3 linked regions of the Homo sapiens genome follow. The protein of the gene in region 1 purifies or fractionates together with the protein of each later gene. This does not show direct contact. Each region holds a gene or a part of one and is shown in the gene's direction. Other genes may lie near its edges. The genes, in order: DET1, STK40 and COPS7B.

What was found.
Region 2: the proteins of DET1 (region 1) and STK40 purify together in Homo sapiens (affinity purification with mass spectrometry; 2 studies listed by BioGRID and IntAct, with this or other methods). This does not show direct contact.
Region 3: the proteins of DET1 (region 1) and COPS7B purify together in Homo sapiens (affinity purification with mass spectrometry; 2 studies listed by BioGRID and IntAct, with this or other methods). This does not show direct contact.

Annotation. Positions count from the first base shown.
Region 1 is NC_000015.10:88,544,784-88,548,383, reverse strand, and holds the start of DET1 (DET1 homolog), read left to right. Parts: upstream 1-1,702; 5' UTR 1,703-1,844; intron 1,845-2,008; exon of another isoform or gene 2,009-2,120; intron 2,121-3,600. UniProt on the Homo sapiens protein: Component of the E3 ubiquitin ligase DCX DET1-COP1 complex, which is required for ubiquitination and subsequent degradation of target proteins. The complex is involved in JUN ubiquitination and degradation.
Region 2 is NC_000001.11:36,379,278-36,383,102, reverse strand, and holds part of STK40 (serine/threonine-protein kinase 40), read left to right. Parts: intron 1-3,825. UniProt on the Homo sapiens protein: May be a negative regulator of NF-kappa-B and p53-mediated gene transcription.
Region 3 is NC_000002.12:231,803,261-231,807,085, forward strand, and holds part of COPS7B (COP9 signalosome complex subunit 7b), read left to right. Parts: intron 1-3,825. UniProt on the Homo sapiens protein: Component of the COP9 signalosome complex (CSN), a complex involved in various cellular and developmental processes.

The DNA of each region.
Region 1 (3,600 bases):
CCCATTTAAGCTCCTGTATAGATGCTCCTTTTTATTAGGCCCCAGTCTTATTCCAGACACCAGACCAACTTAGACTGTGCCCCAAAAAAACTTGTCATCCCTGCTATCTTCTGTCTAGTCATACTCCTATTCACCGTTCTCAACTACTCATACATGCCCTGCTCTTGTTTACACTGCCCTGCTCTTGTTTACATTGTTTTTCTAAGCCATCACAGCTGATATCTCCAGGTGCTATCCACAAACTGCCACTCTTAACTCTTGAAGTAAATAAATAATCTTTGCTGGCAGGACTATGCTGAATCTCCTTAGGCACTCTCTAATCAGATATCCTGAGTCATCCCAATTCTTAGACCTTTTATACCTGTTTTTCTCCTTTTGTTATTCCATTTGGTTTCTCAATTCATCCAAAACCATATCCAGGCCATCACCAATCATTCTATATGACAAATGTTTCTTCTAACATCCCCACAATATCACCCCTTACCACAAGACCTCCCTTCAGCTTAATCTCTCCCACTCTAGGTTCCCACGCCACCCCTAATCCCGCTTGAGGCAGCCCTGAGAAACATCGCTCATTCTCTCTCCATACCACCCCCCAAAAATTTTTGCCGCCCCAACACTTCAACACTATTTTTATTTTTCTTATTAATATAAGAAGGCAGGAATGTCAGGCCTTTGAGCCCAAGCCAAGCCATCGCATCCCTTGTGACTTGCACATATAAGCCCAGATGGCCTGAAATAAGTGAAGAATCACAAAAGAAGTGAGTATGCCCTGCCCCACCTTAACTGATGACATTCCACCACAAAAGAAGTGTAAATGACCGGTCCTTGCCTTAAGTGATGACATTACCTTGTAAAAGTCCTTTTCCTAGCTCATTCTGGCTCAAAAAGCACCCCCACTGAGCACCTTGCGACCCCCACTCCTGCCCGTGAGAGAACAAGCCCCCTTTGACTGTAATTTTCCTTTACCTACCCAAATCCTATAAAACAGCCCCACCCTTATCTCCCTTCGCTGACTCTCTTTTCGGACTCAGCCCACCTGCACCCAGGTGAAATAAACAGCTTTATTGCTCACACAAAGCCTGTTTGGTGGTCTCTTCACACGGACGCCCATGAAAGTGACTGCACCCATCCCAGCAGCAGTGTATGAGGCTTTTGATTTCTCCACCTCCTCACCAGTATGTGATATCTTCCTTTTAAAGATATTATAGCCATCCTAAGGGGTATGAAGTAGTATCTCATTGTTTTGATTTGCATTTCTCTGATAATTAATGATGTTGAAGGTCTTTTTGTTAGGGAAGCAGGAGCCTACGAGAGCCAGAGTGACATCATTTTAAAATCAACTCCATCTTAAAACTAGCAAGGCAAATTCCCTGTTAGTCAGAGATGATCAATACAATCTCAGTCTTCAAGGTGCTCGCCATCTAGAAGATAACAGAGTAGGAAGTTTCTCAGCATCTAATCAATAGGTGAAAAATTAATTCTATTCATATTTTTTCAAATGTGCCCAGCAGGTGCAGAGACACTGCCATTGGGACTCACAGAGATTGCCAGGTTAGGTGCCATTTTAATTTTTCCTTCGGAGCCATGGAGCCTCTACGGCTTCGATCCTTCCTCCGGGCACAAGGGTGCGCTGTACCTGTCTCTTAGTGTTGGCTGAACAGTGCCGTGCTCTCCCCTACTTCCCTTTTTGCTGGGCCGCAGTTCCGGTGGCTGGCGGAAACGGGAACGTGCAGCCGCGGGTGCAGGAGTCCTGGGGCATGGCGGGGGCGGGGCAGGGGGAGGCGCGCACAGAACAGGCTGGGGCATCCCTCGCCCTGGCTCTTTGAGCCCGGACCAGACAGGTGAGGACTTACCATTTTTGGCCCAGCCTCCAAGCCCGTCAGACCCTCCCCGGCAGGCTCCTCCCTGCATGACGCTGATGCCCAGAGGCCCCGCGGCCCCCGCCCTCCCTCAGCATTCTCTTCCCTTTGAGGCCCCGCCCCAGGCTTTTCTTTCCGGGGGCGCCCTTTTGGGTATGTGTGCCCGCCCCTTGGCATCCCCTTCTGGTTTAGAGGCCGTCGCAAGGAATTGAGGGACATGTGCACCTTCTCCCATAGGGAAACTGAGACCCAGCAAGGGTAAAGGACTTAGTACCACACAGTGAGTTAGTGTGTTGTACCCAGGGGTGTTAGAGAAAACGCCACACTTTGAGACGAATTAAGAGTCCTTTATTAGCCGGTGACCGAGAGACCGCTAACGCTCAAAATTCTCTCGGCCCTGAGGAAGGGGCTTGATTAACTTTTATACCTTGGTTTAGGAAGGGGAGGGGGGGTCTAGTTAAAACAATTTTACAGAAGTTAGGTAGTCAAAAAGTTAAAAGGATAAATGGTTACAGGAAAGTAAACAGTTCCAGGTGCAGGGGCTTTATGACTATTACAAGGTGATAGACGTGGGGCTTTGGGTGTTATCAATCAGATGAATTCTTGGGGACTGTGGATATAGCTTGCCACAGTATCTTATCAGTTAATTGCATTCTTGGATGTGCTGGGAGTCAGCTTGCACAAGTTAAGTCCTTGAGGAAGGGGCTGCCAGTGAAAGAGCCAAGATGGAGTCTGTCTGGCTCTCTTAGCTAAGGGAGAGTCTAAAAACAGAGTTAGTAAAAACCAGGTTGGGCATTACATTCCCCACTTGTGTTTTTGGGGAATCAAATCATTGATTCCTCAGTTTTAACAAGGGGAGTCTTAAGATACATAAGTTTGACAGAAGCTATGCATTGTTTTACAAAATTAAGAAACCAATTTAATATACAAGGCCTAAAAATTAAACTTAATAGTATGATGAGGAGAGGTCCAGCTAACCCAGTGATTAAAGTAGTTAGCCAGGGGTTCCAGTGGAACATGTTTTGATACCAGGGGATGTTATTTTCTCGTTCCTGTTGTTGCCTATCTAGATATTCTCGAACTTTTTGGAGGGTATCTTTTATGACTAAGAATGGTGGAGGAACAGTTAAATCAACTTTGTCAGGGGGTTTCTGGAACATAGGGTCACCTAGAGCAGTTAAAGGCCCGATTGGCTTGGGTGGGCTCCATGAGACCAGGATTTTTATTTCTATTATTTATTTATTTATTTTGGATGGTGAACATAGTCCCAACATCAAATCCTGGAATATAAAATGTTAATTTCCATGACATGCCGTAATATTATTGTAAGAGGATTACAATTTTTTTTTTAGTACATAATTTAGGATGAGAAGCACGAGTTACCGAATGAAGATCTGGTTGATCCCCCAGAGTAGGTGGCTAAGTTTACACATGTCCAATCAGGGCAGAAAAACTGATAAGTATCTCGACAGCTAGCGTCAGGGTGATTCCCAGGACAGAGGTAAAAGTCAACATTTTGGAGTTCTTTTTCTGCACCTTTGGCACTTCCACACATCCAGTTTGGCTCCCAGAGCACCCAAATCCTGCTACAAGGTCGACACTTCCTGCTTTTGGGACAAGCAGATTGTGTTGCTCTTCGTGGGTACAGGCTGGCTTTGGGAACAGTATACATAAAATCAACTGCAAAGGAGACTTCCTTAGAGGTACCGGCCCTCCAAGTGGTGTTTGCAAATACACG
Region 2 (3,825 bases), on another chromosome or scaffold:
GTGGTGCATGCTTGTAATCCCAGCTACTCAGGAGGCTGAGACAGGAGAATCTCTTGAACCTGGGAGGCGGAGGTTGCGGTGAACCAAAATTGCATCATTGCACTCCAGCCTGGGCAACAAGAGCGAAACTCTGTCTCAAAAAAAAAGCTTATTTGGCTCTGCCATCAGACAGATCTGTGTTCTACTTCTATCCCTGCTGGTCACTAGGGATTACTTATTCTCTCCACCACAGCTTTCTCATCTGTAAAATGGGGACAATAAGAGTACCTTCGTAATAGGGCAGTTGTGAGGAGTAAGTAAGATGTTACAGGATGAGTACTTAACAGACACTGAGTAGTAAATGTTAGCTCTTATTACAGGCTACAGGAAAGAACTTTTAGGAATTAGTTGCAGCAATTCATGGCAACTAGAACTATGTCCCATTGAGCTGTCAGAAGTGTCCTGAGGGATCACAAGATCACAGAGTTTTATTTTATTCTTTCTGAAAAGAAAATCTAAGGGGAGTTTACCCAGTCTGTATGGGAGCCATGCAGATGATTCAGTTTGGCTCTTTAAAAGAACTATTTTTAAAAATAGAAGTAGGACTGCTGAGAAAAAAATAGTACTTTAAAGTATACATGGGTTGGCCAGGCGCGGTGGCTAACGCCTGTAATCCCTGCACTTTGGGAGGCCGAGATGGGCAGATCGCTTGAGCCTAGGAGTTCAAGACCAGTCTGGGCAACATGGCGAAACCCGTCTCTACAAAAAATACAAAAATTAGCTGGGCATGGTCATACGCACCTGTAGTCCCAGCTACTAGGGAGGCTGAGGTGGAAGGATCTCTTGAGCCCAGGAGATCAAGGGTGCAGTGAGCCGAGATTGCACCACTGCATTCCAGTTTAGGTGACACAGTGAGACCCTGTCTCAAAAAAAAAAAAGTATACATGGGAGTAAATGTATTTAGAATTTCTTCTCTGTGTGTCCCTGCTAGCAACCCTAGTCTGGTACCTGAATAAGCAGCATCAAGAGGCATCACACACACTGATGAGTGTGGTAGCTCAAAATACAGAGCCCTGATTCCACATACATGAGCTCCCATGTGTGGCTGGGGCTCTGCTGGGTCCTGGGGGCAGGAGGAGGATGGAGAGGCAGGCCCTACCATGGAGGAGGTTGTGATCTAGGGGCAGGCTCCTAACCAGTTAACATGTGCACAGTTTGGCAAGTCTCTCACAGAAGTCTATAGCATGTGGGGGAACCCAGTGGAAGAAGTGATCGAGCTCTAGGATGAGGAGGAGACTGGGGAGAACTTCAGAGAGCCCTTAGAACTTGAACTGGGACTGGGCACAGCAGCTCACACCTGTAATCCCAACACTTTGGGAGGCCGAGGCAGGAGGATCGCTTGAGCCCAGAAATTGAAGACCAGCCTGGCCAACATAGTGGGACCCCATCTCTACAAAAATTAAAAAAGAAAAAAATTAGTTAAGCGTGGTGGCATGTACCTGTAGTTCCAGCTACTTGGAAGGCTGAAGTGGGAGGATCACTTGAACCTGGGAGTTCCCAACTCCCAGTAAGCTGTAATCACACCACTGCACTCGAGCCTGGACAACAGAGTGAGACCCTGTCTCAAAAAAAGAACTTGAATTGGATCGTGAAGAATGAATAGAGTTTTCTGGGGGTCTATGAAGCCCTCCAGGCAGGGGGAGCAGCCTGGCACAAGCACGGATATGTGGTAATTTGTGTGGCACTTTAGGAACCACAGGAGTTCTAGCCCAGAGTGTGAAGGGACTGACTGCAGGATGTGCCTGAGAGGTAGGCAGGCACTAGGGCGCAGATGCTTGAATTTTGTATTCTGTTGGTGATGGATGCCTTGCATTAAGTGGAGGAAACATACCATTAGACCTGCATCTGCTTTGGAGGATGGAGTGGGTTGGGGAGAGGTTGGAGTCCCCATAGGAGGCTGTTGCAGTAATCCCAGCAAGGGCTGAGAGGGGCTTGGATCAGGGCAGAGGCAATAGGGTTGAGAAGAAGAGCAGAGATGAGCTGTTTGGGGGGAAATCAACTGGACTCTGGGAGTGTTTGGAAGTGATGCCAGAGGGAGGAGGAATGGTGACAGGTAACCTTGAGGTCCTTGGTTTGGGTGACAGAGTGAATGATAGTGCAGAGATAGGGATGGCTCAAGGAGAAGATAATGGCCAGTGAAATCTGCCAGCTTCGTTCAGTAAACCCTGGGCACACCCTCTCGGGAGAGGATCAGTTGGAAGGTCTTGTAGACCCCTGTCTGGACTTGGGCCAGGCTTCCCTTTGCTTTCGCCTGAATCAGCACCTGGGAGAAGGGCAGCTTTCCTTCCTTCACCTTTCCTCTGCCCAGATTTAACCAGGGAGGTGAACCTCTTCATGTTTCACATCTATAAAGCGATAAATCTTCAGCCTTCCAATAGCCCTAAGAGCAACCCTTCCCTCTGGCAATATCCACCCCGATTCAGCATACTACAGCCCACTGATGGGGTCCTGAACAGCAGAGACCCTCAGGGGAGAGAGGCTTTCTCAGTGCCCCCTGGAGATCTTATCTAGAGAGAGGTCTGGAAATTGGATTTGCTGCCTGAAGCTGGCTCAGCAGATTCAGTCCTTCTTCTCAGGAAGGACTGATATCTGCCAGAGGCCACCCAGGACTTGCTCAGAACCTTCAGGGAAGGGAGAGAAAGCTGCCCAGTGTCCTTGACCCTTGAAGTTCTAAGGGAGCCAGAAGCTGTCCCTCAGCTGGATTGGACTATAGTGAGGGGTGTGCTGGTGGGCGGGCCTTCAAACAGGCCCTTTGGAATTTGGGAGATTTTTTTACATGATTTGTCCTTGGGTTTGTGGTGTAAAGAAAGTAAACGAGAAAATGATCTGAAACAAGAGCACTTCTTTCTCCTCCACCTGCTCAGGTGAGACTCTGACCTCGAAGGTAGTCGAGGGCCCACAGCAGCCCCCGCATATCCTCCCAGGCTCTGTAATCAAGATCCTAGAGGGGAAAGGATGCAATTGCTTGCTGTGATTTACTTACTATCTTAGAGATAGTTCCACTTTGGCACATGCAGGTCTGGGTCATTTGTGGCTATGATGTGTCCCACTGTGAGTGTAATTTATTCAACAAGCTCTCTGCTAACAAACACTTGGGTTATTTTCTGCATTCTACTCTCTAAACACTTCTGCTGAAGTGACTTTCTTCATACATATGATTTTGCCCACCTTAGGTATCATCTGCAGGATAAATTTCTAGAAGTGAATTGCTGCCTCAAAGACTATCCTTTATTATTATTATTGTTAAAGAATTTCTAGGTCTCCTTTTAATAAATTGGGGCAGCCTTATTTTTCCCCCAGCAAGTGAATCTGTTCTTTTGGGTTGAGGTCGTACGTCCTGAGGGGAACACAGGTGTTCCCACTCCCTAAAGAGGCTACAACCCAGGCCGGGCGCGGTGGCTCACACCTGTAATCCCAGCACTTTAGGAGGCCGAGGCAGGCAGATCACGAGGTCAGGAGATCAAGACCATCCTGGCTAACACGGTAAAACCCTGTATCTACTAAAAATACAAAAAATTAGCCGGACGTGGTGGTGGGCACCTGTAGTCCCAGCTACTCGGGAGGCTGAGGCAGGGAATGGCGTGAACCCAGGAGGCGGAGCTTGCAGTGACTGCCCTCCAGCCTGGGTGAGAGAGCGAGACTCCGTTTCAAAAAAAAAAAAAAAAGAGGCTACAACCCAACGGTGTTCATTCTCTCCTGGCCATGACAGTCAGTCTTGGGTGTGAGTTCAGGCTCCCCAGAACTTAGCAGTCTACAGGCCTGACGGTTTCAAAGGAACTCTAGTTG
Region 3 (3,825 bases), on another chromosome or scaffold:
AGGGGCAACCTGGGGAGGAGCGGTAACCCCCGGGGTGCATGAACAACAGAAGGGCATAGGGGGAATGACTGCTTCCAAGTGTGGTGTGGGGGACGAGTGTGGCTGAGATGGCTTGAGTGCAGGGCATGTGTTGAGGAGTGGGAAGGAAGGTACCTGATCTTGGTATTTCAGAACTAGAGAAAAAACCAAGTTTTTCCCTGGGCCAAGTCTTATTTCTTTTTATTGCATGTCAGGGTTACTGAGCCCCTAAAAAAGCTGAATGAGAGCAGTTTCTACAGGAGAAAATGGCTTGAGGAAGTAAATAGGCATCTGAATAACAGGGGAAAGTGTCCATGCTTCTGTCTACTTATTTGTTCAAAAGCTTTTGACAGGATCTTGAATCTCAAAGGCTTTTAAATAGAATTGAGTCACCATGAGAGAGGGAGGCTGCGTTATGGTAGGGAGTGGCAGTACAGAAATGAAGCAGAGGGTCAGCCCTTCTGTGACTGCAGAAGGATGATGCGCGGGCTCCCTCAGGACCAGAGTGAGAACCATGAGTTTGTGGCTCTGTGAAGGAGAAGCATTGGAAGTGTTGAGCTTTGAAAAGAAAAAGAGTAAAACAGCAAAGCCTTGGGAGTCAGTTGAACTGGTCAGTTGCTGAGAGGCTGGCAGCGGAGCGTTGCCGTTGGTGGATGTGCCACAGGCAGAGTTTGCTCCTTGGCTGGCAGGTCAGGGACTCATCACTCAGCCCAGCCATAGATACTCTGAGTCCAAAGCCGGCCCAAATCACCTTGGGCCACTCTAAAGAGAGAAATAAATGCCGGTTGTCACTTTCTGATAGGCTGATAATGACTTTATGCTACAAAAACATAGGTGAAGCGGATTGAAAATATAACCATTATTTGGGGATTGATTAATGCCTTTTCCTTACTCATGCAGGGGTTATGAGACTGTCAGTAAATCTAAGACATGTTAAATAATGTAGAAAACTATTTGTAGTATAAGCTGATTTTTTTTTTTTTTTTTGAGACAGAGTCTGGCTCTGTAGCCCAGGCAGGAGTGCAGTGGCGCGATCTTGGCTCACTGCAAGCTCTGCCTCCCGGGTTCACGCCATTCTCCTGCCTCAGCGTCCCGAGTAGCTGGGACTACAGGTGCCCGCCACGTCACCCGGCTAACTTTTTATATTTTTAGTAGAGATGGGGTTTCACCGCGTTAGCCAGGATGGTCTCGATCTCCTGACCTCGTGATCTGCCTGCCTCAGCCTCCCAAAGTGCTGGGATTACAGGCGTGAGCCACTGTGCCTGGCCTAAGCTGATTGTTTAGTAAAAATTATTACACAAATAACTTGAGGAAATAAGGCTAAATAGTGCTTATCAGACAAGATGAAATTAGGAATTTTTTTTGGTTTTGTTTTTTTAATTTTTAATAAAGCTATTTTGCCAAATGGGAAAGGTAATTATTTGCTTGGAAAGATACCCCATTTTGGAAATACAGTCCTTGAAACAAAAACTTGTTTGTTTTCTAATGTCTTATTTGATTAAAATTTTGTCAGCTTTTGGGGAGACTTTAAAACACATTCCCTCAGGTAATGTTAAATTGCAGGATCTTCTTTGGAAGTTAGAGGTAACTGACATGCAAATAAATAAACTAAAGTCATGTCGTTACCTCTTATTATGATTTTAGTTCATTTTCTTCTGGATATTTAGAAAATATATCAAATTGGAGAAGCCTTAGAATGTTATTTTATAAAGCAGTGTTCCCTGAGAAGTCAAATTTCTTAATTTTTCCTCCAATGTCATCAAAATATGCCTTAGCTGGGCATGATAGTATGTGTCTGTAGTCCCAGCTACTTAGGAGGCTGAGGCAGGCAAATTGGTTCATGCCAGAAGTTTGAGACCAGCCTGGGCAACATAGCAAGATCCCATTTCTATTTTTTAAAAAAAGTCTTAAAACAAATAATATTTCTTTTATCAGAGAAAGAGTGATAAGCCATTGGCTTGCTCCAGATCATTCACTCACCACCTTGCCAGGTGACTCACTGAATGAGGTACACCAAAGTGGCAGTGAGCCGCTGGGAGGGCGAGATGCCTCAGGGTTCTGGGGTTCCCAGATTGTGTTTTGTTGTCTGGCAGGACACTGGATAAACCCAGAGTTGAATTCCCCTCCCTGTTTATTATATATATATATATATATTTTTTTTTAAATTTTATATATATATATATATATATATTTATATATTTCCAGGCACTGGGTCTTGCTGTGTCACCCAGGCTGGAATCAGTGGTGTAATCATAGTTCACTGCAGCCTCAAACTCCTGGACTTAAGTGATCCTCCTGCCTCAGCCTCCTGAATAGCTAGGACTATAGGCATGTGCCACCACACCAGGCACATGTTTTTTTCTTTTATGTCTTTTTGTTGAGATAAGGTCTTACTTGAATGTCATCTAGGCTGGAGTGCAGTGGTGCAGACATGGCTCACTGTAGCCTCTACCTCTTGGGCTTAAGCGATCCTCCTGCCTCAGCCACTTGAGTAGCTGGGACTACAGGTGCATGCCACCATACCTGGCTAAAATTTTTTTTTTTTTTTTTAAGAAAGACAGGGTCCCACTATGTTGCCCAGGCTGGTCTTGAACACCTGCTCTTGAGCAATTCTCTTTGCTCAGCCTCCCAAAGTGCTAGAAGTATAGGTGTGAGCCACCATGCCCAGCCTGCCCTCTGTAATGACTGTTCCAGCCCACAGTCCTCTGTCATTCTCTCTTCAGAAAGGCTACAGCGTTGATTGAGGTTACAGAAGTTTAGGGCATGGCTTTTCCCCCTGTCTCAAAATAGTGACAACAAAAAACAATTTATGATCTAGTTAAGGTGGATTCTGCAGATGATGGCTCTCCTCCAGGAACCCAATTTTTGTCTCACCCTCATAGCATTGTTTTGTCTTTGCATTTGGACTGTCTCTTACCCTCAAGCTCATAATATTCTGACTGTTGAGAACTTTTGACCCTGACAACTCCTTTTCACTATGTAGAAAACTGGCTGGGTGTGGTGGCTCATGCCTGTAATCCCAGCACTTTGGGAGGCCAAGGTAGGAGGGTCAGTTGACCCTGGGAGTTTGAAAACAGCCTGGACAACGTGGTGAAACCTTGTCTCTACAAATAAGTTTTTAAAAATTAGCCAGGCATGGTGGCAAGCGCCTGTGGTCCAAGCTGCTCAGGAGGCTGAGGTGGGAGGATCACTTAAGCCTGGGCAGTTGAGGCTGCAGTGAGCTGTGATTGTGCCACTATACTCCATCCTGTACAACAGAGTAAGACTCTGTCTCCAAAAAAAAAAAAAAAAAAGACTAAAAAAGCTATTACTTATTTGACTGCACTGTTCTTCCCTACCACCACCATCCTCTTCCTGCTGTTTCTTCCTCTCAACGAACTGAGGAGCAAAGGTTTGGAATAGTCACTTTTCAGCAGGCAATATAGCAGTACTGATTCAAATGTAAAATGTAAATCGACTTTGATCTGGAAAGCTCACTTCTAGGAGTATCTTCCATAGATGTTCACAGAAGTATGCAAAGGTAAACATAAAGGGCTGTTCAGAGTAGCACTGAAACCCAAACTAGGAACCAATTCAAAAAACTGGAAAACTGGAGAACCTTCCTAATAGAATAGGGTTCAAGTGTCACAGAGGATATCTGTTCTGACGTGGTAAAATGTTCAAGAGCTGCTTAAGTATTTACGAGTCTGTATTTTGTTAAGTGAAAGAAAGCTATACTGCACACGGTAGTGTCATAGCATTTTGCCAGTACTTCTATTACATTTTCTTCATTTCTCACTTAGTTGGCTGAAGTTCATCCTCTACTGG